Homo sapiens: one gene and its partners. The protein of the gene in region 4 purifies or fractionates together with the protein of the main gene of each other region. This does not show direct contact. Each region holds a gene or a part of one and is shown on either strand. Other genes may lie near its edges. The genes, in order: UBE3C, PJA2, TRIM71, DYRK4, TRIM56, ST13 and TRIM4.

What was found.
Region 1: the proteins of DYRK4 (region 4) and UBE3C purify together in Homo sapiens (affinity purification with mass spectrometry, with the first as the bait; one large-scale study listed by BioGRID). This does not show direct contact.
Region 2: the proteins of DYRK4 (region 4) and PJA2 purify together in Homo sapiens (affinity purification with mass spectrometry, with the first as the bait; one large-scale study listed by BioGRID). This does not show direct contact.
Region 3: the proteins of DYRK4 (region 4) and TRIM71 purify together in Homo sapiens (affinity purification with western blotting; one study listed by BioGRID). This does not show direct contact.
Region 5: the proteins of DYRK4 (region 4) and TRIM56 purify together in Homo sapiens (affinity purification with mass spectrometry, with the first as the bait; one large-scale study listed by BioGRID). This does not show direct contact.
Region 6: the proteins of DYRK4 (region 4) and ST13 purify together in Homo sapiens (affinity purification with mass spectrometry; one large-scale study listed by BioGRID and IntAct). This does not show direct contact.
Region 7: the proteins of DYRK4 (region 4) and TRIM4 purify together in Homo sapiens (affinity purification with mass spectrometry, with the first as the bait; one large-scale study listed by BioGRID). This does not show direct contact.

The regions. Positions count from the first base shown.
Region 1 is NC_000007.14:157,141,926-157,145,425, forward strand, and holds part of UBE3C (ubiquitin-protein ligase E3C), read left to right. Parts: intron 1-3,500. UniProt on the Homo sapiens protein: E3 ubiquitin-protein ligase that specifically catalyzes 'Lys-29'- and 'Lys-48'-linked polyubiquitin chains.
Region 2 is NC_000005.10:109,399,975-109,403,474, reverse strand, and holds part of PJA2 (E3 ubiquitin-protein ligase Praja-2), read left to right. Parts: intron 1-3,500.
Region 3 is NC_000003.12:32,869,997-32,873,496, forward strand, and holds part of TRIM71 (E3 ubiquitin-protein ligase TRIM71), read left to right. Parts: intron 1-3,500.
Region 4 is NC_000012.12:4,565,208-4,568,707, forward strand, and holds part of DYRK4 (dual specificity tyrosine-phosphorylation-regulated kinase 4), read left to right. Parts: intron 1-2,625; exon of another isoform or gene 2,626-2,747; coding exon 2,748-2,841; intron 2,842-3,500. UniProt on the Homo sapiens protein: Possible non-essential role in spermiogenesis.
Region 5 is NC_000007.14:101,091,981-101,095,480, forward strand, and holds part of TRIM56 (E3 ubiquitin-protein ligase TRIM56), read left to right. Parts: 3' UTR 1-3,500.
Region 6 is NC_000022.11:40,836,140-40,839,639, reverse strand, and holds part of ST13 (hsc70-interacting protein), read left to right. Parts: intron 1-3,500. UniProt on the Homo sapiens protein: One HIP oligomer binds the ATPase domains of at least two HSC70 molecules dependent on activation of the HSC70 ATPase by HSP40. Stabilizes the ADP state of HSC70 that has a high affinity for substrate protein.
Region 7 is NC_000007.14:99,892,717-99,895,530, forward strand, and holds part of TRIM4 (E3 ubiquitin-protein ligase TRIM4), read right to left. Parts: intron 31-2,814; coding exon 1-30. UniProt on the Homo sapiens protein: E3 ubiquitin-protein ligase. Mediates 'Lys-63'-linked polyubiquitination of the innate immune receptor RIGI, this linkage doesn't lead to proteasomal degradation but seems to enhance IFN induction.

The DNA of each region.
Region 1 (3,500 bases), on a different chromosome or scaffold from region 4:
TAATACTCTTGTGCTGGGTCCTAGATGATACGCATGTTCAGCTGTTGTGCACACCGCTGCCACAGTTTCCCCGTGTCGCACGCCCACAGCATCTGAAGGTATCCAGGTTTCCACATCCTTGCCAACACTTGATATTGCAAGTCCTTTAATTTTAGTGAGGATGTAGTTTCTTTGTGGTTTTAATTTTGTTTCCTGACAACTAATTATGTTGAGCACCTACATATGCTTGTTTTCCTGAATTCTCTTTGACTGCCGCATAAGTCCCTTCCCTTGTTGGAAAAATGAAGTTATAGTGACCCTTTTCTCATGTCTTAAATTATTATTTGAAATCTTCCCTTTCTGGAGCTTAGTGGAAAATGGAGTGGTTACCACCTTTGAATAAGCTTTTTCTTTTTTCAAATTAAATACTTTTAGTATTTATTATTTGTATAGATCTGTGTACGACAAGTCTGACTTGAAGAAGTTGATAATCTTGTTGGGCAGATAAGACTTAAGCAATTAAAAATTAAATAACAATAGAGTAATTGCTACATTCTAAATTTCCCTTGGTCCTGATTCAGAAAAAGTAGAATTGTTTGGAGCTTAGTCCTGAAGGATGGGTGTAATTAGGATGGGTGGAAGACGAGAAGGCATTCCAGGTTCGTGGAGCGGGGTGTGTGGAGTACATGTAGATTGGATTACATTGATTCAAAGTCACTTTGGGGAGCTAAACATTGATTACACATGGACATAAAGATGGGATGATAGACACCAGGGACTACTAGAGGGGGAAAGAGAGGGACGGGGACAAGGGCTGGGAAGCTACCTGTTGGTAACTGTGCTCACTCCCCGGGTAATGGGATCATTCACACCCCAAACCTCCGCGTCCTGCAGTATATTCTTGTAACAAACGTGCATAGGTACCCCCTAACTCTAAAATAAAAGTTGAATTTTTTTTTTTTTTTTGAGATGGAGTTTCGCTCACGCTGGAGCGCAGTGTTGCCCAGGCTGGAGTGCAATGGTGCGATCTCAGCTCACCACAAACCTCCACCTCCCGGGTTCAAGCGATTCTCCTGCCTCAGCTTCCCGGGTAGCTGGGATTACAGGCCTGCACCACCACGTCTGGCTAATTTTGTATTTTTAGTAGAGATGGGGTTTCTCCATGTCGGTCGGGCGGGTCTCGAACTCCCGACCTCAGGTGATCCGCCTGCCTCAGCCTCCCAAAGTGCTGGGATTACAGGTATGAGCCACTGCGCTCAGCCTGAAATTTTTTTTTAAGTCACACTGATTTCTATCTTTAAATATTTCTGACATCGGGATACACACTGATAGCATGATGCAGTTTAATTGGGGGTATGTTTTTCTTGGTAGTGTATAGAAGAATATCACGGGGTCATCTGATTTCAAGTACAGAAATGGACTAAAACTAGCTTAGTAGGCAAAACAAAAAGAAACAAAAACAAGTTTATGAAAGGATAGGCGTGTCTGACAGAATAGAAAGGTCAGAAACACCCAGATAGCAGGTATCACCACCACAGGAGTTGCTTGTCTTTCTCCAGGAGCTGGGTGCACTCCCTTCTTCCTGTCTCCTTCATTCCTGGCTCTGCAGACTGGCTTTCTCCATTTCTCACACATGGTTTCCTAGCTTAAGCGTCAAGAAAGTTTGATCATAATTACCAGTTTTCAGGAGAGGAAAGTCTGATTGGCCTGGGTCATGTTTCCACCTGATAACCTCAGTCTGAGGAGGGCTTGGAGGCTTGGTTCAGATGGAACAGTCTAGGTGCACCTGAGGGCTGGGGTAGATTCTTCAAGAAGCGGGGAGTGGTCGTTGACTGAATGCCTGAGTTCCTGTGGGACAGGCACAGGAAGGAGTCTAGGCTAGAGATGCAGATTTGGGGGTTATCAACAGAATGGTGGCTTCGAACACAGGTCCTTAAGAGGACTTGGAGTTTGGGACAGGGTGGGACTCGTGAGGTACTGCAACATTTAATATGTGTGGGAGTTGGGGATACTTACAAAAGAGTCACACCTCCGGGAGTGGAGGAGAGTGGTGTCCAGGGAGTGAATCTCAGGGAGGGAGGAGTGACAGGCAATGCCAAGTGCTGCACAGACACAGTGAGTCCACTGACTGCGGAGCTGGGAAGAATTGGGTGATTTGAGCATATTCTGTAGGGTAGTCAGAGTTGGAAGTCAAGAGCATAGCACATTGGAGAGTGAATGGGAAGTCACAAACAGGGCCGAACACAGGCCGGATGCTGTGGCGCACGCCTACAATCTGCCACACCGAAGACTGAGGCGGGAGGATCGCTGGATCCCGGGAGTTCAAGGCTGCAGTGAGCTGTGATCATGCCATAGCACTCCAGCCTAGGCGACACAGCATGACCCCATCTCTTAAAAAATAAGGCAGGGGCAAGGCAACAGTGTAGACCTTTTTTGAAAAGCACCGGAAGATTGGATGATAGAGGGAAATTCGGTGTCTCGGAAATAGTTTTGTCTGTTTTGGGAGACGGGGGAAACTTAAGTTTATAGACTGGGAAGGACGGGGGTTAAAAATGTGGGGAAGACAGGAGTGGCATAACTTTCAGAGTCTTCGAGAATACCCGAGAGGGGAGAACTGAGTGGGAGCAGGCAATGGGAAATATTTTGAGACTTAAAGAAGCTAGGGATGAATATGGATATAGAAAAGTTTGTAGACCGGAGGAACTGAAATTTTTTAAGTTTTTGTAGATCTGACAATAGTGGGAGTAGAATTAAGATCACTTTAATGTTTGTCCAGTGCTTTTTTTAAAAAAAAATAGACTTTATTTTTTAGAGCAGTTTCAGGTTTACAATCAAGCAGAGGGTAGGGTTCCCATATGCCTAGTCTCCCTCACCTCACTTTTCTCTATTACTAGCATCTGGCATTAATGTGGATCATCAGTTACAATTGATAAACCAATGTCGATGTGTTATTATTAATTGAAGTCCATAGTGTACATTCAGGTTCACACTGTGTGTTGTGCATTGTGTAGGTTTTGACGAATATATGATGACATGTATCTACCCTTACAGCGTTATACAGAAGAGTGTCATTGCCCTAGAAATCCTCATTGCTGGCCAGGTGTGGTGGCTAATGCCTGTAATCCCAGCACTTTAGGAGGCCGAGGTAGGCAGTCAGGAGTTTGAGACCAGCCTGGCCAACGTGGTGAAACCCCGTCACTACTAAAAATACAAAAAATTAGCTGGGCGTGGGAGGCTGAGGCAGGAGAATTACTTGAGCCCTGGAGGTGGAGGTTGCAGTGAGCCTGGATTGTGCCAGCGCATTCCAGCCTGGGTGACAGAGCATGACTCTGTCTCCAAAAAAAAGAAAAAAGGAGGAGGCCCGGCACTTTGGAAGGCCAAGGAGGGTGTATCACCTGGAGTCAAGAGTTCGAGACCAGCCTGGTCAACATGGTGATACTCTATCTCTACTAAAAATACAAAAATTAGCCAGGCGTGGTGACAGGTGCCTGTAATTGCAGCTACTCAGGAGGCTGAGGCAG
Region 2 (3,500 bases), on a different chromosome or scaffold from region 4:
ATTTATTAGGATTAGTATTATTTGTTTTACAATTTTTTTTAGAGTTTGCATGTGAACTCTTCTGGTCCTAGAGTTTTCTTTGCTGGAAGGCTTCAAAGGATAAGTCCAATTATCCTTTAATAAATACAGGATTATTAGGGTTATCTATTTCTTCTTGAAAGCTTTCGGTCTTTGTATGAATCACTTTCACTCACTAAGTGAGCGTTAGTAGTTTTTGTCTTTCAAGGCATTTGTCTTATTTCATTTATTCGTTGTCATAAAGTTGTTTCTTAATTATTTTAATGCCTATAACGTCTGTAGTGGTGTCTTTCCTTTCATTCTTGTTATTAGCAGTGTGACCTCTCATTTTTATTTGGTTCTAGGTTTATTTTATTAATCTTTTCAGAGTCAACTTTTTATTTGATTGCTTTTTTTTTAATTGTTAGTTTTATTGATTTCTGCTTCTTACTATTTCTTTCTATATGCTTTGGGTTTAAATTCCTCTATGTTAATTTATTAAGGTGTAAGCTTAGGTCATTGACTTGAGACCTTTTTTCTTTTCCTTCCAAGCACTGCCTGAGGTGCTTACACAAATTTGATGCACTGATTTTTTTTAAAGTTCTTATGTCACTTCCACTTTGACCCATGAAGGTTGCTGTTTAATTTCCAAATATTTGGTGATTTTGCATGTCTCTTTCTTTGTATAATTTATTTTAAATTCTTTGATATTTGTTTTATGACCAGAATATGGTTACTCTCAGTAAATGTCCCATGTACACTTCAAAATAATGTGTATTCTGCTGTTTAGCAGTGGAGTATTCTATATCAAGTTGATTGATGATGCTTGTTAGGCCTTCTCTTTCCTTACTGAGTTTTTGTTTGTTTCATTGATCATTGAGAGAAGAGTTGAAGTCTCCAAGTATAATGGTAAGTTTGTTTATTTCTCCTTTTCAGTTTTTGCATCATGTGTATTGAACCTCCTGTTAGGTGCATGTAAATTTAGGATTGTTAAAACTTTTTGGTGAATGAACCCCTTAATCATTATATAATGCCCTCTTTATCTCTGATAGTATTCCTCATTCCAAAGTCTACTTTATCTAATATTAATACAGCCTCTCCAGCCTCCTTTTAGTGTTTGTATATTATTTTCCATCCATTTAATCTGTCTTTTATTTAAAATGGGTTTGTTCTAGACAGCCTTTTTTAATTCATCTTGAAAAATCTGTTTTTACATTGAAGTGTTTAGACTATTTACATTTAATGTAATTTTGATGTAGTTGGATTTAAATATACAATCTTAATTGTTTTCTACTTATGTGCTCTCTGATGCCTATTTTTGAGTGCATTTTATCTTCACCATTGGCTCACTACTTACACTCAACTTTTCCTCTCTTTTAAAAAGTTAATTGGCTTCTCTGTGATTTATATTTTACATCTTTAATAATAGACCATATGGAAGCAATACTATACCACATTTTATATAGTGTCAGAGCTTTACAACAGTATATTTACAATGTATATTTACAATTTCTCCTTATCTTTTGTGCTATTACTGTTTTACCTTTTACAAATGCCATAAATGCATAATACCTTGTAATATTTGTTTTATTCCTGTGCTGTCTAGTATGGTAGTCATTAGCCAGTGTAGCTATTTAAATTTGAATTTAAAGTAGTTAGTACAAGTTAAATTAAAATTGATTTTCTGTGTTATAGTGGCCTCTTTTCCAGTGCTTATTCTTTCTGCATGAAGAACTTCCTTTCACATTTCTTGGACTTCAATTCTACTGGTAACAAAGTTCCAAAGATTGTTTCACAAATACTTTGTTTCACTTTTTCTTTTGAAAGATTTTGCTGGATATAAATTTATTGTTCACAGTGTTTTTCTAATATTAAGGATGCTATTTATTATCTTTTGACTTGCACAGTTTCAAATAAGAATTTGGCTGTGATTCTTATTTAGTTCCTTTTTTCTGCTGTCAGTATCAAATATGTTTTATCAGTGGTTTTTAAATTTTATTTTATTTGTTGTTTTTTTTTGAGACAAGGTCTCGCTCTGTTGCCCAAGTGGAGTGCAGTGGTACAAGCTTGTCTCACTATAGCCTTGAGCTTCTAGACTCAAGCAATTCTCCCACCTTAGCCTCCAAAAATCCTGCATTTGCAGGCCTGAGCCACTGTGCCCAGGCTGTCATTGGTGGTGGTAGCGGTTGTTTTTGAGACAGAGTCTCACTCTGTCGCCCAGGTTGGAGTGCAATGGCGCCATCTCAGCTCACTGCAACCTCTACCTCCCGGGTTCAAGTGATTCTCATGCCTCAGTCTCCCAAGTATCTGCGATCACAGGCTCCCGCCACTACGTCTGGCTAATTTTTGTATTTAACAGGGTTTCACCATGTTGGCCATGCTAGTCTCAAACTCCTGGCCTCAAGTGGTCTGCCCTCCTTGGCCTCCCAAAGTGCTGGGATTACAGGCATGTGTCATTTGGTTTTTTTGTTGTTGTTGTTTTGTTTTTTGTTTTTGAGACAGAGTCTTGCTTTGTCTCCCAGGCTGGAGTGCAGTGGCGCCATCTCGGCTCACTGCAAGCTCTGCCTCCCAGGTTCATGCCAGTCTCCTGCCTCAGCCTCCTGAGTAACTGGGGCTACAGGCACCCGCAACCATGCCTGGCTAATTTTTTTTGTATTTTTTTAGTAGAGACGGGGTTTCACCATGTTAGCCAGGATGGTCTCAATCTCCTGACCTCGTGATCCACCTGCCTCTGCCTCCCAAAGTGCTGGAATTACAGGTGTGAGCCACCATGCCCGGCCATATCATTCGTTTTTTATAGCAGGTTAAAGATGTTAACATCTTGGGATATGTGTACATTTTTGTGTGTTTTGTATTTATACTGCTTTTGTAGGGGGGAATCACTGAGCTTCTTGGGATTTATGATCTTTTAAATAATGTATGAAAAATTCACAGCATCTTTCTCTTCTAATGTTTCCACTGCCCGCGACACCCCCCCGCCCTTCCCCCCCCTCCCCCTGCTGGTTTGCTCTCTTTTTGTGGGGTTCCAGTTAAACTCATGGCAGCTCATTTAATGCAGTCCACAATTCTTGGAGGCTCTGTTTTGGTTTTTGTTGCTGTTGTTTTTTAACATGTTTCTTTTCAGTTAAATCACTTTTTATCTAGGCTTGGATCATTTCTTTTGACTTATCTTTTTCTTTTTTTTTTTTTGAGACAGTCTCAGTCCATCACCCAGACTGGAGTGCAGTGGTGTGATCTTGGCTCACTGCAACCTCTGCCTCCCGACTTCAAGCGATTCTCCGTACCTCAGCCTCCTGAGTAGCTGGAATTATGGGCGTGCACCACCACGTCTCACTAATTTTTTGTATTTTTAGTAGAGACGGGTATCACTATGTTGGTCAGGCTGATCTTGAACTCCTGACCTAAAGTGATCCACCCATCTTGGCCTCCCAAATTGCTGGGATTACAGGTGTGAGCCACTGAGCCTGGCCTGATTTATCTTGAGCTCACTAAAAGCTTCCTCC
Region 3 (3,500 bases), on a different chromosome or scaffold from region 4:
GGCTACTACCACATTTCTGGCTATAGGACCCTCCACACAGCTCCAGTTTATTTCCTTAAAAATAATTTTACACCTGTTTCAGAGAGAATTACATCCATGCACATCCTTACCTATCGATTGTTTTAACAGCTCTAAAATTGTGGTTTTTCAGTTTCAAATTGTGGTTAGATGAGACATGGAGCTTCTAAATGAAGCATGAAATCCTACCAAAGTTCTGCTCCAACTTTTAGCTGGAAGGTTTATAAAAGTGGATTTCATTTTATAGTTTTTGGACAATGCATTCTTTTAAAAATTCATTGTTTACTAATAACGAGCACATTGAGGCCATTCTTTTACTCACTGGTAGCTTTTTATTATCAACCATTTGGGTGCTCCCTGTCCCCATCTCTGTTGCAGGCGGCCTGGAGCTGTGAAAGCACTGGCTCTTCTGAAACCACAGTGTGTTCTGGGTACTTAGAACTGCATCGATCCTGTGTAAAATGATACCAAGCAGGGATTGCATTCAGAGACCCCTTTCATTTGTATATCTGGGCTCTCAAGGCTGGTCACAGGAGGGCTCTGGTGTCGGCTCAGGGCACCCTGCCTTTCGCTGCCATACCGGCCACTACCTGTTCTGACCAGGATTTTTTTCTGGCTACTGCATCTGCAGAATCTTTTAAAACCTACCATTCATGGGGGGATTGCAAATGTCCAGCATCATCCAGGTTCTGTATTTTGAGGTTGATCTAAACCTAAGAAAAATCACCTTAATTCTTTATAGTTACATAGTTGGAGTCTGGAATGGGCACCCTGGCTCAGCCCAGAACTTACTACTTGTTCTGTTGTTGTTGTTTGTTTTGCACTCTTAGCCCGTGTTGCCTAGGCTAAATTCAGTGCCATGGTCACGGCTCACTGCAGCCTCAACTTCTTAGGCTCAAGGAATCCTCCCACCTCAGGCTCCTGAGTACAAGCGTGAGCCACCACGCCCAGCAATTTTTTTTTTTTTTTTTGGTAGTTTGGGCCCAAGTGTTCCTCTAGCCTCAGCTTCTCAAGGAGCTTGGACTACAGGCATGAGCTGCCACGTCCAGCTACTAGAACTTAATTTTGAAGCTCTTTAGTTTCTGTTGTCAAGTCTCTATTAGGTAGACTTTCTGGGGTGGAAGGGGGTCTTCCGGAGGTACCCAGTCAGGCCCCTTTTGTTTCACAGATGAGACTGAAGCCCAGACAGGTCAAGAGAGGTGATTGGACAGATGGTTCCATAGCCAGGTAGTGCCAGTACTCACTAGCCATGGAGATGAGAGCAATCTAGGTAGTTACAATTTGCAAGAGCCCCTTAGTCCGAAGGAAGCAGGAGAGTGCCATTCAGTCCACACAGCTGTCTTGAGAAGAGGGAAAGAACGGATGCGTTCTCAAGGTTGCTTAGCTGTTAGAAGCAGGGAGGCCACCCGAAGGTTTGGTGGCATGTTTTATTCACATGTACAAGAAACTTTCTGATGGAAGGGTTTTCACACTTCACATCAGCATAGGAGTGATCCCTTCATTCCCATGACAAATGGAGAGAGCAAAGGAAAGGAACGTCGTTCAAACTGGTAGAATTGCTTTAGCACCAGGTCGTAAAAAGGGATTGGCCAGGAATTTTTCCTGAATTTATCCAGCTCAGCATCTTTTGATTAGTATTTATACTTGAGAATTTTAGATTTAAAAGATTATTAGGATTAGATAATCTCTGAAGGATAGATCAGCTTTAAAAGCAACTGATTTAAAGGAGGCAAGTTGCTGCTACCTGGTTTCAGTCTGCCACCATTGCTGGCAAAGCACTGCAGTGATCAAAATTAGTAGGAAAGTTACAAACCTTACCACATTTCCCTTGTATAAAGTAGGATCTGGGCCGGGTGCGTTGGCTCACGCCTGTAATCCCAGCACTTTGGGAGGCCAAGGTGGGTGGATCACGAGGTCAGAAGATCGAGACCATCCTGGCTAACAGGGTGAAACCTCATCTCTACTAAAAATATAAAAAAATTAGTTGGGCGTGGTGGCAGGCACCTTTAGTCCCAGCTACTCCCAGGGAGGCTAAGGCAGGAGAATGGCATGAACTCGGGAGGCAGAGCTTGCAGTGAGCCGAGATCGCGTCGCCACTGCACTCCAGCCTGGGTGACAAGAGCAAGACTCTGTCTCAAAAACAAACAAATAAAGTAGGATCCATAAAAACCTCCTGGTTATAGCAGAACTGTTACTTAACAAAAGTAAAAACACAATATCCTAAATCTTTCGTTTTTCCTGTTTCTGAATCGTAAAGTTTCTAGAGAACCAGTTTAACCCATCCTAGATTACACACTTCCCTATTAACTCAATTAGCCCCGAGTGGAGTAACTTCTGTGTGCTTGAGTGAACCATTTAGGGGGAGCATTTTTCTAGTGGACACACTTTATGTGAAGATTTTGGTTGTTAATAAAATAAAGAACTTGGAGAAGGAAAGAAGCAGCAGTCTCCCTCTGTTTGCCCCCAGCCCTCTCTTTTTGGAGCTCTCCGCCTAAGAAAACCTTCTGGGCCACTTCCAAGCCTTCTCCCCATCTCTGTCTCCCACAACACTCTGCCTTGCTTCTCACCAGAATGAGCTTCTATTCAGTCTGCGCAGAATCGCCTGGAATCTCACATCCTGGATCTCCACCATACCTAGCAAGGTGCTTTGTACTGGTGATGAGAGAGCTGGTGTCATACCTGTGTTGGAACCAGCTCTGTAGAAGGCTCATGCTGGCTTCCCTGCTGTGTCTTTGCTAACACTGTGGCCTTGAGCACTCCCCAACTCCTGTCCTCACCTGGAGATGAAGTGTGGGTGTTGTATTTGTATACTGCTTCCCTGCCTGTTGCATGTTAGCTAGCTTCCCCTCATGCCCAGGTGTACCAGAGGCAAATTTAAGCTCTGCTCTTGAAAGCAATCCAGCAAACATTTACAGAGTGGCGCTAAGTGCCCTGCTCTGTGGAGAGATACAGTAATGAGACTGGCCCAGTTTCTATGCCAAGGAGTTTTCTCTCTTGAGAGCTCCTTGTTTATTAGCAGGTAAAGGTTGTGCCAGCCCTTCTCTCTCTTCCTCCCTCCCTCCCTCCCTCCCTCCCTCCCTCCCAGCGTGCTGGGCCCCAGGGAAGTGTAGAACATCACATAAAGCAGTTCTGTCAGCACTGGCTGCCTCCCAGGTTCAACTCCTTGGAATAACTTGGCATGAAGAAGAAAGGCAAGGAGCTGGCTGACCTTACCACTAGCTTTTTGCCTTCGTTCCAGAAACTTAAGCCTGTAGCTTGCTTGAGTGCCTGGGAGAACCATGCTTTGCACTTTGCATTACTACCTGTGGTGTGAGGATGGTTGTTACTGGCTCTTAACCTTGCTTCACACATCTAGGCTAGAGCAGCAAAGGAAACTTTTCTGGTACATTCTTACATCCAGGCCACTAATATCAGACTAGGTAACACAGTCTTAACAACTTTTCTGGATAATGAAGCTAAGATTCAGGGCAAACTCTCATGCC
Region 4 (3,500 bases):
CTTTGAGCAAGGGTTAAGTTGTACTGTTGGAAGCCAGAGTTCATGCATAAAAAAAGAAAGGCACAAAATAGTCTTTAATAATCACAGAATTATCCAAGGGATGGCAAAGTTGGAATAAGTCACAAGAGATTTTTTTTTCAGTCTGTCAGTATTTTTGTAGAATTAAAGAAATTTAGACCCCAAAGGGACTTTAGAAGTCACCTGCTCCAGTCTCCAGTCTCATTATTTTGCAGATGAGGAAATAGCACAGAGAGGACAAATGGCTCATTCAAAATCATGGCACTGTGTGTTAGGTGGCATTGTGACGAGGCTCCATGATTCCTCAGCGTTTCCTTCAGTGTTTGCTCCTTCTCTGCCTCCAGCGCTGTCAGAGCTGAACAGAGGAAAGGGCTCCAGCTGTTTGGAAGATTTCACATTTACTTTTTTTTTTTTTTTTAAGATGGAGTCTTGCTCTGTTGCCCAGGCTGGAGTGCAGTGGTGCAATCTCCGCTCACTGCAACCTCTGCCTTCCGGATTCAGGAGATTCTCCTGCCTCATCCTCCCGAGTAGCTGGGATTACAGGCGTGAGGCACCACACACAGCTAACTTCTTTTGTATTTTTAGTAGAGATGGAGTTTCACCATGTTGGCCAGGCTGGTCTTGAATTCCTGACCTCAGATGATCCACCCGCCACGGCCTCCCAAAGTGCTGGGATTACAGGCGTGAGCCACCATGCCCATCCCACATGTACTTTCATAGTCTCCTACATCTCTGTGAAGTAAAGGAAGGCAACACTCGATACAGAGTCTTGGCAGGAAAAATTTTTGTGTTCATTTTTGCCCAATGTTGCGATTTTACAAATCCCATGTCCAGTTGATGGCCACAATTCTACCTGTTCTGTCTCCCAAATCTTTCCCAAGTTCATACTTCTATCCCCACTGTCAGTGCCTTGGTTGAGGCTCTCATTCACTCTTATCTAGACACCCAAAATGCCTTCCTAGTTCCTCCAAATCGTGCTTCGTGATATTGCCAGAGAAATGGTACCAGAATACAAATCTGATCTTCAGCCCAGGTTTAGCATAGCCACGCAGGCTCCAAGACTCTAACTTGGACTACGTGCCCCTTTACAACCTAATCTACCTCCCTGGCCCTCCATCGGCAATGTCCAAGGACAGTGCTCAAAATTTCTGGAAAAAACAATGTTCTTTCATATTTATGTTCTTTGTGTGTCCTCCTCCATCTGCCCTTGACACTCCTGCCTGCTCTGCTCATTCTTCAGAGATGGTTCTACCCTGCTCAAGCGTGAAGGCTTCCTCAGCTCCTCCAGCTGACTTAGTCAACACCTGGAAACATGCTCTGGGAGCTGGTTGCAGAAGGCTGTATTAATACATCGATCACATGCATTGTCATGATCTACTTTCTTCTATGTACCTCCTTTCCTGGATAAGGAGTTTTCTTTGAGGGCAGAGACCATGTCTGGTTTATCAGTGAAATTGTCTCAGCAAATGTTTATAGAAAGAAAGGAAGAGAAGGAAGAAGTGAAACTATGATCTTAAGCAGAGAAGTTACTGGTAATTTTTGTTTGCTTTTGTGCAGGATTTTTTCATATTGTCTGTATGTGTGTGTATGTTAAAGTTAATGTTCCTACTTACCTCCCCCAGCCCTACTGAGAAGAGGTCACTATTACAGTTCATTTCTTCTAGATCTTTCAATATGCCTGTATAAAGACATGCAAGCATTTTGTTTTCTGTTAAATAAATATAGAATTATATTACACACATGTTCTACTGTTTTTGCTCAATACATTATGGGCACATATAAAGATCTATCTTATTTTTTAAATGGCTGCATTATATTTCATAAAACATATGTGTGCCATGAATTGTTAACTTCCCATTATGGACAAGTTCTGATTTTTCAATAGTTATACTGCAAGAAATGTTAGCATGACTTTTCTTTAATCCTCTGAATACTTTCAAAGTTGTGGTGCCATCATCATTTATATGGTGTCTGCAAGAGCCTGCCAGTGGAGTGATTTGCAGAAGCTGTCATAATATTTGCATTGGTTCCTGTTCTGCCCTTGTTTCTTGTATTCTTGATTCCTCTGGCTCTTGGCTAAAGCTAGAAGCCGAAAAGGGACTTGCAAAGGACACAGAGCAAGCGGTTTCAGCTGTACTCTGCTAATGTAACAGGGAATGTAAGTGTCCTGAGACCCCTCTGAGACTCACCTTCCACTTATAGAAATTACTGCTTACACTAGATTCCATAAATGTGTGCAAGGTTTTTTTTGTCTTGCAGTAAGTCAATTATTAATAGAACTGTGCTGTGAATGAAGAAGATGCAAACATGGCCAAATGAGAGTTAGAGGAAGTGTTTCTACCAATTGTTCCCCTTTTCTTTTTCTATAGGCATTAAACTATCTAAGTAGCCCATGAATACGCCCATCCTGTAAGGGGATATTATGTTTGTGGCAAAAGCATGAGGTTTACTTTCCAGTTAAGTAGGGGAAATGGTTTTTTTCCCCTTTGGTTGTCTAAACTGCTAATCACCTGATTATCTCTTCCTCCTTCCCTGGCTTCTGTCTGACCTCCTGACCTCATGTGACCATCAGAAGGGAAGCAAGGGAGAAGCAGGGACCCTGCTCCTGCTTTTAGGCCTGTTGCCTTCTTTTCTTCAAACCTGCCTGCTTTCTTCTGTCCCTGAGTGTGTGGGCCATTACTTAGATTTGACTCCTCCTGCCAATTTATTTTTTACTTTCCCTCATGCAGGACTCAAATGGATGCTAAAAAGCCAAGGAAATGTGATTTGACTCCCTTCCTGGTTTTGAAAGCAAGAAAGAAACAAAAGTTCACCTCTGCGAAGGTAAAGATCCTTGAATTTTCACTGGGGAAGAGAGGTATCATTGCGAGGTCCTAGGGACTCAGGACCCAGTGCTGATGGTTGTGCCCCAAGCACCTCTGGGTACAGCGCAAAGGCAAAGGTGTGGAGGATCATGCTGATTGGCAGGGCCAAATCTGGGTGGGTGTGGAGGGAAAATCAGCAGAAGGGCAAGGCCTTAATCTAACAGGTAAGCTGTATTCCAGAAGGCCCTGGGTGAGTGCATCCATGGTATCTTTTATTCTGCTGTATATATGTGAGATCCTACTGGAAGTTACCTGGAATAGTTGAAGAACGTTTCCAGAAAAGATCTGCTTTTTTTCTTTTTTTTTTTTCTTTGAGACGGAGTTTCACTCTTGTTGCCCAGGCTGGAGTGAAATGGTGCAATCTCAGCTCACTGCAACCTCCACCTCCTGGGTTCAAGCGATTCTCCTGCCTCAGCCTCCCAAGTAGCTGGGATTACAAGCATGCACCACCACGGCTGGCTAATTTTTGTATTTTTAGAGGAGATGGGGTTTCTTCATGTTGATCAGGCTGGTCTCGAACTCCCGACCTCAAGTGATCTGCCCGCCTCGGCCTCCCAAAGGGCTGGGATTACAGGCGTGAGCCACCACGCCTGGCCAAGACCTACTTTTTTTCTAATA
Region 5 (3,500 bases), on a different chromosome or scaffold from region 4:
GGTTTCACTGTGTTGGCCGGGCTGGTCTCCAGCTCCTAACCGCGAGTGATCCGCCAGCCTCGGCCTCCGGAGGTGCCGGGATTGCAGACGGAGTCTCGTTCACTCGGTGCTCAATGTTGCCCAGGCTGGAGTGCAGTGTCGTGATCTCGGCTAGCTACAACCTCCACCTCCCAGCCGCCCGCCTTGGCCTCCCAAAGTGCCGAGATTACAGCCTCTGCCCGGCCGCCACCCCCTCTGGGAAGTGCGGAGTGTCTCTGCCTGGCCGCCCATTGTCTGGGATGTGAGGAGCCCCTCTGCCCGGCTGCCCAGTCTGGGAAGTGAGGAGCGCCTCTTCCTGGCCGCCATCCCATCTAGGAAGTGAGGAGTGTCTCTGCCCGGCTGCCCATCATCTGAGATGTGGGGAGCACCTCAGCCCCGCCGCCCCGTCTGGGATGTGAGGAGCGCCTCTGCCCGGCCGCGACCCAGTCTGGGAGGTGAGGAGCGTCTCTGCCCAGCCGCCCCGTCTGAGAAGTGAGGAGCCCCTCCGCCTGGCAGCCGCCCCGTCTGAGAAGTGAGGAGCCCCTCCGCCCGGCAGCCGCCCCGTCCGGGAGGGAGGTGGGGGGTCAGCCCCCTCCCGGCCAGCCGCGCCGTCCGGGAGGGAGGTGGGGGGTCAGCCCCCGCCCGGCCAGCCGCGCCTTCCGGGAGGGAGGTGGGGGATCAGTCCCCGCCCGGCCAGCCGCCCCGCCCGGGAGCGAGGTGGGGGGCGCCTCCGCCCGGCCGCTGTCCCGTCCGGGAGGTGGGGGGTCGCCTCTGCCCGGCCGCCCCGTCTGGGAGGTGAGGAGCCCCTCTGCCCGGCCACCACCCCGTCTGGGAGGTGTACCCAACAGCTCATTGAGAACGGGCCATGATGACGATGGCGGTTTTGTGGAATAGAAAAGGGGGAAAGGTGGGGAAAAGATAGAGAAATCAGATTGTTGCCGTGTCTGTGTAGAAAGAAGTAGACATGGGAGACTTCATTTTGTTCTGTACTAAGAAAAATTCTTCTGCCTTGGGATGCTGTTAATCTAAGACCTTACCCCCAACCCCGTGCTCTCTGAAATATGTGCTGTGTCCACTCAGGGTTAAATGGATTAAGGGCGGTGCAAGATGTGCTTTGTTAAACAGATGCTTGAAGGCAGCATGCTCCTTAAGAGTCATCACCACTCCCTAATCTCAAGTACCCAGGGACACAAACACTGCGGAAGGCCGCAGGGTCGTCTGCCTAGGAAAACCAGAGACCTTTGTTCACTTGTTTATCTGCTGACCTTCCCTCCACTATTGTCCTATGACCCTGCCAAATCCCCCTCTGCGAGAAACACCCAAGAATGATCAATAAAAAATTAAAAAAAAAAAAAAAAAAAGAAAACCAAGAAGATGGGAAAACCATGCAGAATTGATTTGACGAGGAAAGCCTTGGTCTCTAATACATGCAATGACTAGAACAGTATTTGGTCAAAGAACCACATAAGCTCTGTACCCTGGAGGAAATGTATGCAGGCAAGGACTAGTAAAATAAAAAATAATAATAATTAAAAAAAAAAAAAAGAAAGGCTGGACGCGGTGGCTCACACCTGTAATCCCAGCACTTTGGGAGGCTGAGGTGGGTGGATCACCTGAGGTCAGGAGTTTGAGACCAGCCTGGCCACTACGGTGAAACCCCATCTCTACTAAAAATACAAAAATTACCCGGGTGTGGTGGCGCATGCCTGTAATCCCAGCTACTGGGGAGTCTGAGGCAGGAGACTCGCTTGAACCTGGGAGGCAGAGGGTGCAGCGAGCCGAGTTCACCCCATTGCACTCCAGCCTGGGTGTCACAGTGAGACTCTGTCTCAAAAAAATAATAAATAAATAATTAAATCCACTTGCAGTGGTCAAAAATAAATGTTAAATAAATGGGTGAGAAATCTTGCGGAGAAATAGACTCCTGGCACTATAAAAATGATCCTGGAGAATAATTTGGCTAGACTTTGCAAGAATGACAAAAATGATTATAAGAATCAGTTGTCTCACTTTGGGGAATACATTCTGGGAAAATAATGTAAGAGAAAAAATATTTGCATACAGACATTTGAGGCTGCTCTGTATATTACAGGCAAGAACTGGAAACTGTTCGGCTGCAGGGTGACAGCTAACTAGATTGTGGTTTATTAGGGGAATGAGCCTTTCTTTGTGTATGACAACTATGAAAACTATTGAGAAGAAATAGTTACGTGATACAGTCATAATCCTCAAAAACGGAGAATCAGGAATTATGATCAAATAGTGATAGTAACAAGGAAAACATCTGTCTAAATAATTACTGAGTAGAAATAGGTTCGGAATTTGTAAATAGTCATTAATTTGGGAGATTGGGGTTTTTTTTGTTTTGTTTTTTGTTTGTTTTTCATTATTTTGTGCTATTATTCATACGTGTACATTTCTACTTCAGTTTTTATTATCCATTACATAACATACATGCTTGATTATTTGCTTCAAGGAAATACACCTTTATAAGTAATACTCAATAACTACTGGGTTTGAGAATGAAGGTGTCAGAACGAATGAGATTGTCCTATGAAAGAAGAGGCAGGAGCCAGGGAGGAGGATCCCACCCGGCCGGGGCTCAGCCAGGAGGCAGGGCCATTGGGGCAGGGTGGCAGTCCAAGGAACCGCTCTGGGAAGGTTTGCAAAGGTCGGGGTCCCCCCTGCCAGGTGATCGAATTATCGTGGAGTGTCTGGAAGGCGGGGGAAGTTTTGTTGAGTTCACCAAATAACTCAGACCAACTGGAAACCAAGTGGAGTTTCTACAGGACCAACTAGAATAGGGATCAGCTACATGGGGGCGGGGGGAGGGGGGCAGGGAACGGTGTCTGTCTTCATTGCAGCTCTGTCTGCAGAGCCAGCACTGTGATACCTCATAGTAGGTGCTCAGTGAATGTCTGTGAAGTGAATTACTATCTAGACAAGGATGAGACTGGTATGACTCTCCAAAGCTTTCCCACCTCCAAAACCTCGGCTTGTGGGGAATCTCCAGTAGGGGGCACTGTGGACACGGTTCGCATCTGCCTCCCAAGGCTGGGCTCCGCGTCAAAAAAAAAAAAAAAAAATGAGACTGAGCCAGGTGCAGTGGTCACTCCTGTTATCTCAGCACTTTGCGTGGCCAAGGCGGGAGGATGTCTTGAGGCCAGGAGTTCAAGACTAGGCTGGGCAACATAGCAAGACCCCATCTCTACAAAAAAATTTTTAAATTAGCCAGAGGTGGTGGCATGCACCCGTAGTCCCAGCTGCTCGGGAGGCTGAGGCAGAAGATTGCTCGAGCCCAGGAGTTCAAGGCTGCAGTGAGCTCTGATTGTGCCACTGCACTCCAGCCTGAGTGACAGAGCAAAACCTGGTTTCCTAAGGGGGGGATAAAAGAGGGAGAGATGAGATCGGGGTGTCCCGCTTCTGTGCATGTGGAGGGGGTAACTGGGAACCGTGTACTGTAGGGGATCGCACACCTTGGG
Region 6 (3,500 bases), on a different chromosome or scaffold from region 4:
GCGTGTGCTACCATCTCCAGCTAATTTTTGTATTTTTAGTAGAGACGGGGTTTCACTATGTTGGCCAGGCTGGTCTCAAATTCCTGACCTCGAGTGATGTGCCCGCCTCTGCCTCCCAAAGTGCTGGGATTGCAGACGCGAACCACTGCGCCCGGCCCATGGTAGTATTAAGTGTAATGTTTGATCGGTTATAATTTGTAAGAACAAATCATGTATAAACTTGGGTACTGTGGCTGCTTGAGTAATATTTCACTCTTTATAACAGTGATAGTGTGTCACAATGCCATAGTTGACTAGATGCTATTGTATAGTGCTCATGTGCATTTGGACTTCATTATTAGATTTAGAAGATGATTGAAGTTATTTTTAGAATGAGTTCAGTATTGATGTTCCGAGTTAGTATATATTTTAAACATTTTGTGATTCTACCACCTGATTAATTTAGCTCCTTAAAACATGTTTATACTGTTTTATACTGCAGTTGCCTTAATAGTTTACCTTCCTGAAAAATTTATTCCTTTATTGCTTTCTGTTTACTTTCCCTAGGTTATTCTTAGAGCTGTTTTTTATTCTACTCTTGCTTGTAACCTGTGATTAACTTTTGCATATATATTTAAGATCTTCATCAGAGGATTATAGACCTGCCAGACTAAGATCCTGTATTTTACTTCTCCAATCTTGTTTTCTCCAGTCAGACTTTACTGTTCTAGAATTTTTTTTTTTTTTTTATTTATGCTATACTGTTTCTCTGGAAAGCTTTTCTTCACATATTTCAACTTTTAATTCATACCTATCAGTTGTTCCCAGCCATTGCTCTTCTGTACCATTCCTTTTCATCGCACGAAACTTTTGCTAATTTCCCTACCACCTAAATTTTAAGAGACAGAGTCTTACTCTGCCACTCAGTTTGGAGTGCAGTGGCATGGTCATGGCTCACTGCAGCCTCAAGTTTTGTAGGCTCAAGCAATCTTCCTGAGTAGCTGGCAATACAGGTGCCTGCCACCATGCCTGGCTAATTATTATCTCTTTTTTTTTTTTTTGGTAGAGATAGGGTTTCATCCTGTTGCCCAGGCTCGTCTTGAACTCCTGCCCTCAAGCAGGCCTCCCAAGCTCAGCATCTGAAAGTGCTAGGATTACAGGTGTGAGGCACTGTGCCCAGCCCATTTTAAAATTTACTGTCTCGGCAATATGTAACAAAAGGAAAATGAGGCTATCACCTAATCATGTTTTTGTTTTCTCACTTTTTTCTGAACTCTCTGTTCATGTGCCTTTGTAAATTTAATCTAGTTCTGATTTTAGAATTTATGCAATTGTATAGTGTATTCTAAAGGATAAAAGATTAGTATTCTAAAGCAGGGGTTGTGAATCCAAGCTCCACCAAGGTTGGTGAAGGCAGTTTTGTTTGGAGAATGTAATTAAAACCTGGAGTATGGAGCCAGAGTGGTATGGTTTGAATCCCACGTCTGGCACTTAACTGTGGCTGCTTTCCCACTACAACAGCATCATTGAGTAGTTATGACAGATTGTATGGTCTGCAGAGATTAAAATAATTCTTATTTGGCCCTTTCCAGAAAACGTTTACCAACTCCTGAACTAAATGTATGGAGGAGCCATTTGTTTAGTTGGGAAGATACAGATTGGGAATAGATTTGGAAATGGGCTAGGAAATGGGAATTCAGTTTTTCGGTTTTGAGTGGGCGTGGTGGTTCACACTTAACAATCCCAGCACTTTGAGGGGCCGAAGCGAAAGGATCTCTTGAGTCCAAGAGTCCAAGATCAGCCTGGTCAACACAGTGAGACTCCATCTCTTAAACACAAAAAATTAGCTGGATGTGGTAGCACGTTTCTGTAATATGAGCTACTTGAGAGGCTGAGATGGGAGGTTCCCTTGAGGCTGGGAGGATCCTTTGAGCCCAGGAAGTTGAGGGTGCAGTGAGCTGTGATTGTGTCACTGCACTCCAACCTGGGTGACAGAGCAAGACCTTTTTTTTTTGAGATGGAGTTTCAGTCTTGTTGCCCAGACTGGAGTGCAATGGCACGATCTTGGCTCACCGCAACCTCCGCCTCCCGGGTTCAAGCGATTCTCCTGCCTCAGATTCCTGAGTAGCTGGGATTACAGGCATGCGCCACCATATGCGGCTAATTTTATATTTTTAGTAGAGACGGGGTTTCTCCACGTTGGTCAGGCTGGTCTTGGTATTTCTCCATGTTGGTCAGGCTGGTCTTGAACTCCCGACCTCAGGTGATCCACCTGCCTCGGCCTCCCAAAGTGCTGAGATTACAGGCGTGAGCCACTGTGCCCAGCCAAGACCCTGTCATAAAAAAAATTTAGGTTTTGAACATGGTAGGTCTGAGTTGTTTATTAGACATTTAAGTGTAATTACCTATAATAGATACCTGTAGTAGTAATTAATAAGACTGAGCATTTTTCTGTGTTGTTTTTGTGAGTTCTTTTCAAGTCCTTTACTCATTCGCTAACTGGCTAAGTATCTTTCACAGTGAATTGTGACATTTATTTAAAAATTTCTGTGTTCGGCCTGGCACAGTGGTAATCCCAGCTACTCAGAAGGCTGAGTTGGGGGGATTACTGGAGCCCAGGAGTTCGAGAGCAGCCTAGGTGACACAGTGAGGCCCAGTCTCTAAAAAATTTTTTTTAATTAGCCAGGTTTAGTGTTGTGGGCTTGTATTCCCAGCTACTCAGGAAGCTGAGGTGGGATGATCACTTCAGCCTGTGAGCTATGATCATGCCACTGTACTCTAGCCTATGTGAGAGTTAGACCCTGTCTCTTAAAAAAAATTCTGTATTTGTCTTGCCTCCCCAAGATTTAGACTTTGTGCAAAGAACTCTTCTGATTCTATAGGGTGTTTTATTTGTTGAATGACATAAGGGATTAGTAAAGAAGCTAACTATGAGAATAGGACAAAATGAATTAAAGTATAGGTTATGGTCTTTTATGAATTCTAGTTTTCTTGAATTTTTGTACCATTTCTTTGAATTCAAATAATAAGCATATTGTTGTTTTCTTTTAAAATCAGCCCTGTGAAGTTAACATGGGTTACTTTTCCTTTCTAAGCTTAATTTTTTCTTTTTAATTTAATGGATAAAAGAAAATCAATGGAATAAAATTAATTTATCTTATCCTTTAAATTGATTTTATCTTTTTACTTTTTTCTTTTATTTTTATTTTTATTTTTTTGAGACGGAGTCGTGCTGTGTCACCCAGGCTGGAGTGCAGTGGTGATCTCGCCTCACTGGAAGCTCCGCCTCCCGGGTTCGCGCCACTCCTCAGCCTCCCAAGTGGCTGGGACTACAGGGCTCCGCCCCCACGCCCAGCTAATTTTTTGTATTTTTTAGTAGAGATGGAGTTTCACCGTGTTAGCCAGGATGGTCTCGATCTCCTGACCTCATGATTTGCCTGCCTTGGCCTCCCAAAGTGCTGGGATTACAGGCGTGAGCCACCGTGCCCGTCTACTTTTTCCTTAAACAAGATCAATATGGG
Region 7 (2,814 bases), on a different chromosome or scaffold from region 4:
GAGCTGTGTCTTCAGCTAGGTTTACAGCCACTGTGGAGAAAATGAGAGCTAAGTAGTGCAGCAGCTTATCATCAACCCTTCCCCAGAAATGCCCATCTTTTCCAGCATCAGTTTCATCTTTCTCCTCCTAACAAACACTCATGACTCCACTGCTGCCCAACTGATCCTCAGCCAGGCCTAGCAGGCCACAGCATGGCCTTTAGCAACCTGAAGTCCTCATTTCCCTTCTGCTCTAAAAGACTAAGCCCTAGACCAGGCGCAGTGACTCATGCCTGTAATCCCAGCACTTTGGGAGGCTGAGGCAGGGAGATCACTGGAGGTCACGAGAGTGAGACCAGCCTGGCCAACATGGCGAAACCCCGTCTCTACTGAAAATACCAAAAAACAAACAAACAAAAAAACTGGCCCGGCATGATGGTGGGCACCTGTAATCCCAGTTACTGGGGAGGCTGAGGCAGAAGAATCACTTAAACCCAGAAGGCGGAGGTTGTAGTGACCCGAGATCGTGCCACTGCACTCCAGCCTGGGTGACAGAGCAAGATTCTATCTTTAAAAAAAAAAAGACTAACCTCTAGAAACTGGGGATCTAATTATTTCATGCCCCAAGTTTTCACAAACAGCCTAAAATTTGGAGAGATATTAACAAATTCTCACGTTGAATCAAAACTAGAACCAAGGCTGCCGACTAGCTGGTTCTTTGGCTAGATACACACAGGTGTCACATAGGACAGAATAATGAGGTCTCTTTTCACGGGTTCCAGTTGTTTATGGGGCATCTCCACAAATCTCCCCACAGATCATTCAAAACTGAACTAATTATCTTACTTACACCCCCTTCTATACTCTCGGGACTAATCCACTTCATATGCAGACATCTTGCCTTCTATGTTCTCTAAGGTGTCAGAGTCCCCTCCACCTGAACACTCATGCTTTTAAATCTTTATTTTCGACTCTTTCCTCTAACCTTCAATAGCTAGTTAGTCACCAAGTCCTACCAATTCTACCTCTGAAATTTGTCACTCAGGTTCTTTTCCTCCCCTCCACTCCCATTGCCACTGCCTTTACTCCAATCTCCAGTGTCACTCAATGTGTTAATAATGTCCTCCCTGGCCTCCCTGACTCCAAATTCCCTTCCCTCTAACTCTCCATGTCTCTTGAGTTTGAGGACTTTTTTTAAAAAAAATCAGGAATGTATGCTAGAGTTTGACAAATGCTTTTCCTGCTTCCACTGAGACAATCACATGGTTTTCCTTTTTTTTTTTTTTTTACTTTAGTGATATAAACTACATCGATTTTCAAATATTAAACCAACTATGCTCTTCTGGGATAAATCTCACATATTGTGATTATTATACATTATCCTTTTTGTATACCAAAGGATATATAAATTGGTTGTGATTATTACATATTATCCTTTTAATATATTGTTGGATTCAATTTGCTAAAGTTTTCTGAGAATTTAGGTATCTATGTTCATGAGAGACATTGATGTATAATTCTTTTCTCTTGTGACGTCTTTGTCTGATTTTGGCATCATGGTAATACAGGCCTCACAGAAAGAATTGGGAAATATTCCCTCTTCATCAATTTTCAATAGGAGTTCTTGAAGAATTGGCATTTATTTCTTAAATGTTTGGTGAAATGTTTCACCAAGAAAATCATCTGGGGACCAGGCGCGGTGGCTCATGCCTGTAATCCCAATGCTTTGGGAGGCCAAGGCAGTGGATTACGAGGTCAGGAGTTCAAGACCAGCCTGACCAACATGGTGAAACCCCATCTCTACTAAAAAAAAATACAAAAATTAGCCAGGCATGGTGGCGCGCACCTGCAGTCCCAGCTACTTGGGAGGCTGAGGCAGGAGAATCACTTGAACCTGGGAGGTGGAGGTTGCAGTAAGCTGAGATTGCACCACTGCGCCCCAGCCTAGGCAACAGACCAAGACTCCATCCCCCCCCCAAAAAAAAAAAGAAAAGAAAAGAAAGAAAAGAAACAAAACGAAAGCCATTTGGAAGGTTTCTAATAGCAATTTCTTTCATAGAAATAAGATTATTCCAGTTATCTCTATCTTCATGAGTCAGCTTTTGTAATTTGTGTCTTTTAAGGACTTCATCCATTTCATCTATATTGTCAAGTTTATTGGCAAAAAGTTGCTCTTAATATTCTATTATCCTTTTAATATCTGCAGAATCTGTAATGATGTCACCTTTCTCATTTCTGACATTAGTAATGTGTGTTTTCTTTTTTTCTGATCATTTTGATTAAAGGTGTGTCAATTTTACTGAAATTCTCAAAGGACCAGCTTTTGGTTTCATTGGTTTCTGTTGGCTTTCTGTATTTCACTGCAATGATTTCTGCTCTGATTTTTATTATTTCCATTCTTCTGTTTACTTTGGGCTTTACTTGCTCCTCTTTCTCTAGTGTCTTAAGGTGGAAGCTGAGGTCAGTGATTTGAGAAGTTTCTTCTTTCCAATATAGCACTATACACTTTTCTTTAAGTTTTGCTTTAGGTGCATCCCACAAATTCTGGTATATTGTCTTTTCCTTTTCATTCCATTCAAACTACTTCCTAATTTGCCTTTTGATTTCTTCTTTAATTCAAGGGTTACTAAAAAGTCTATTATTTAGATTCTTGATATTTAGGGGGGTTTCTAAGGATATTTTGATACTGATTTCTATCAATTCCATTGTGATCAGAGAACATACTCTGAATGATCGGAATCCTTTGAATTTGACACTTGCTTTACAGCCAGCTTAGTCTATCTTGGAAAATGTTTCACGTACACTGAAAAAAATATGTAGTATATAGCTGTTGGG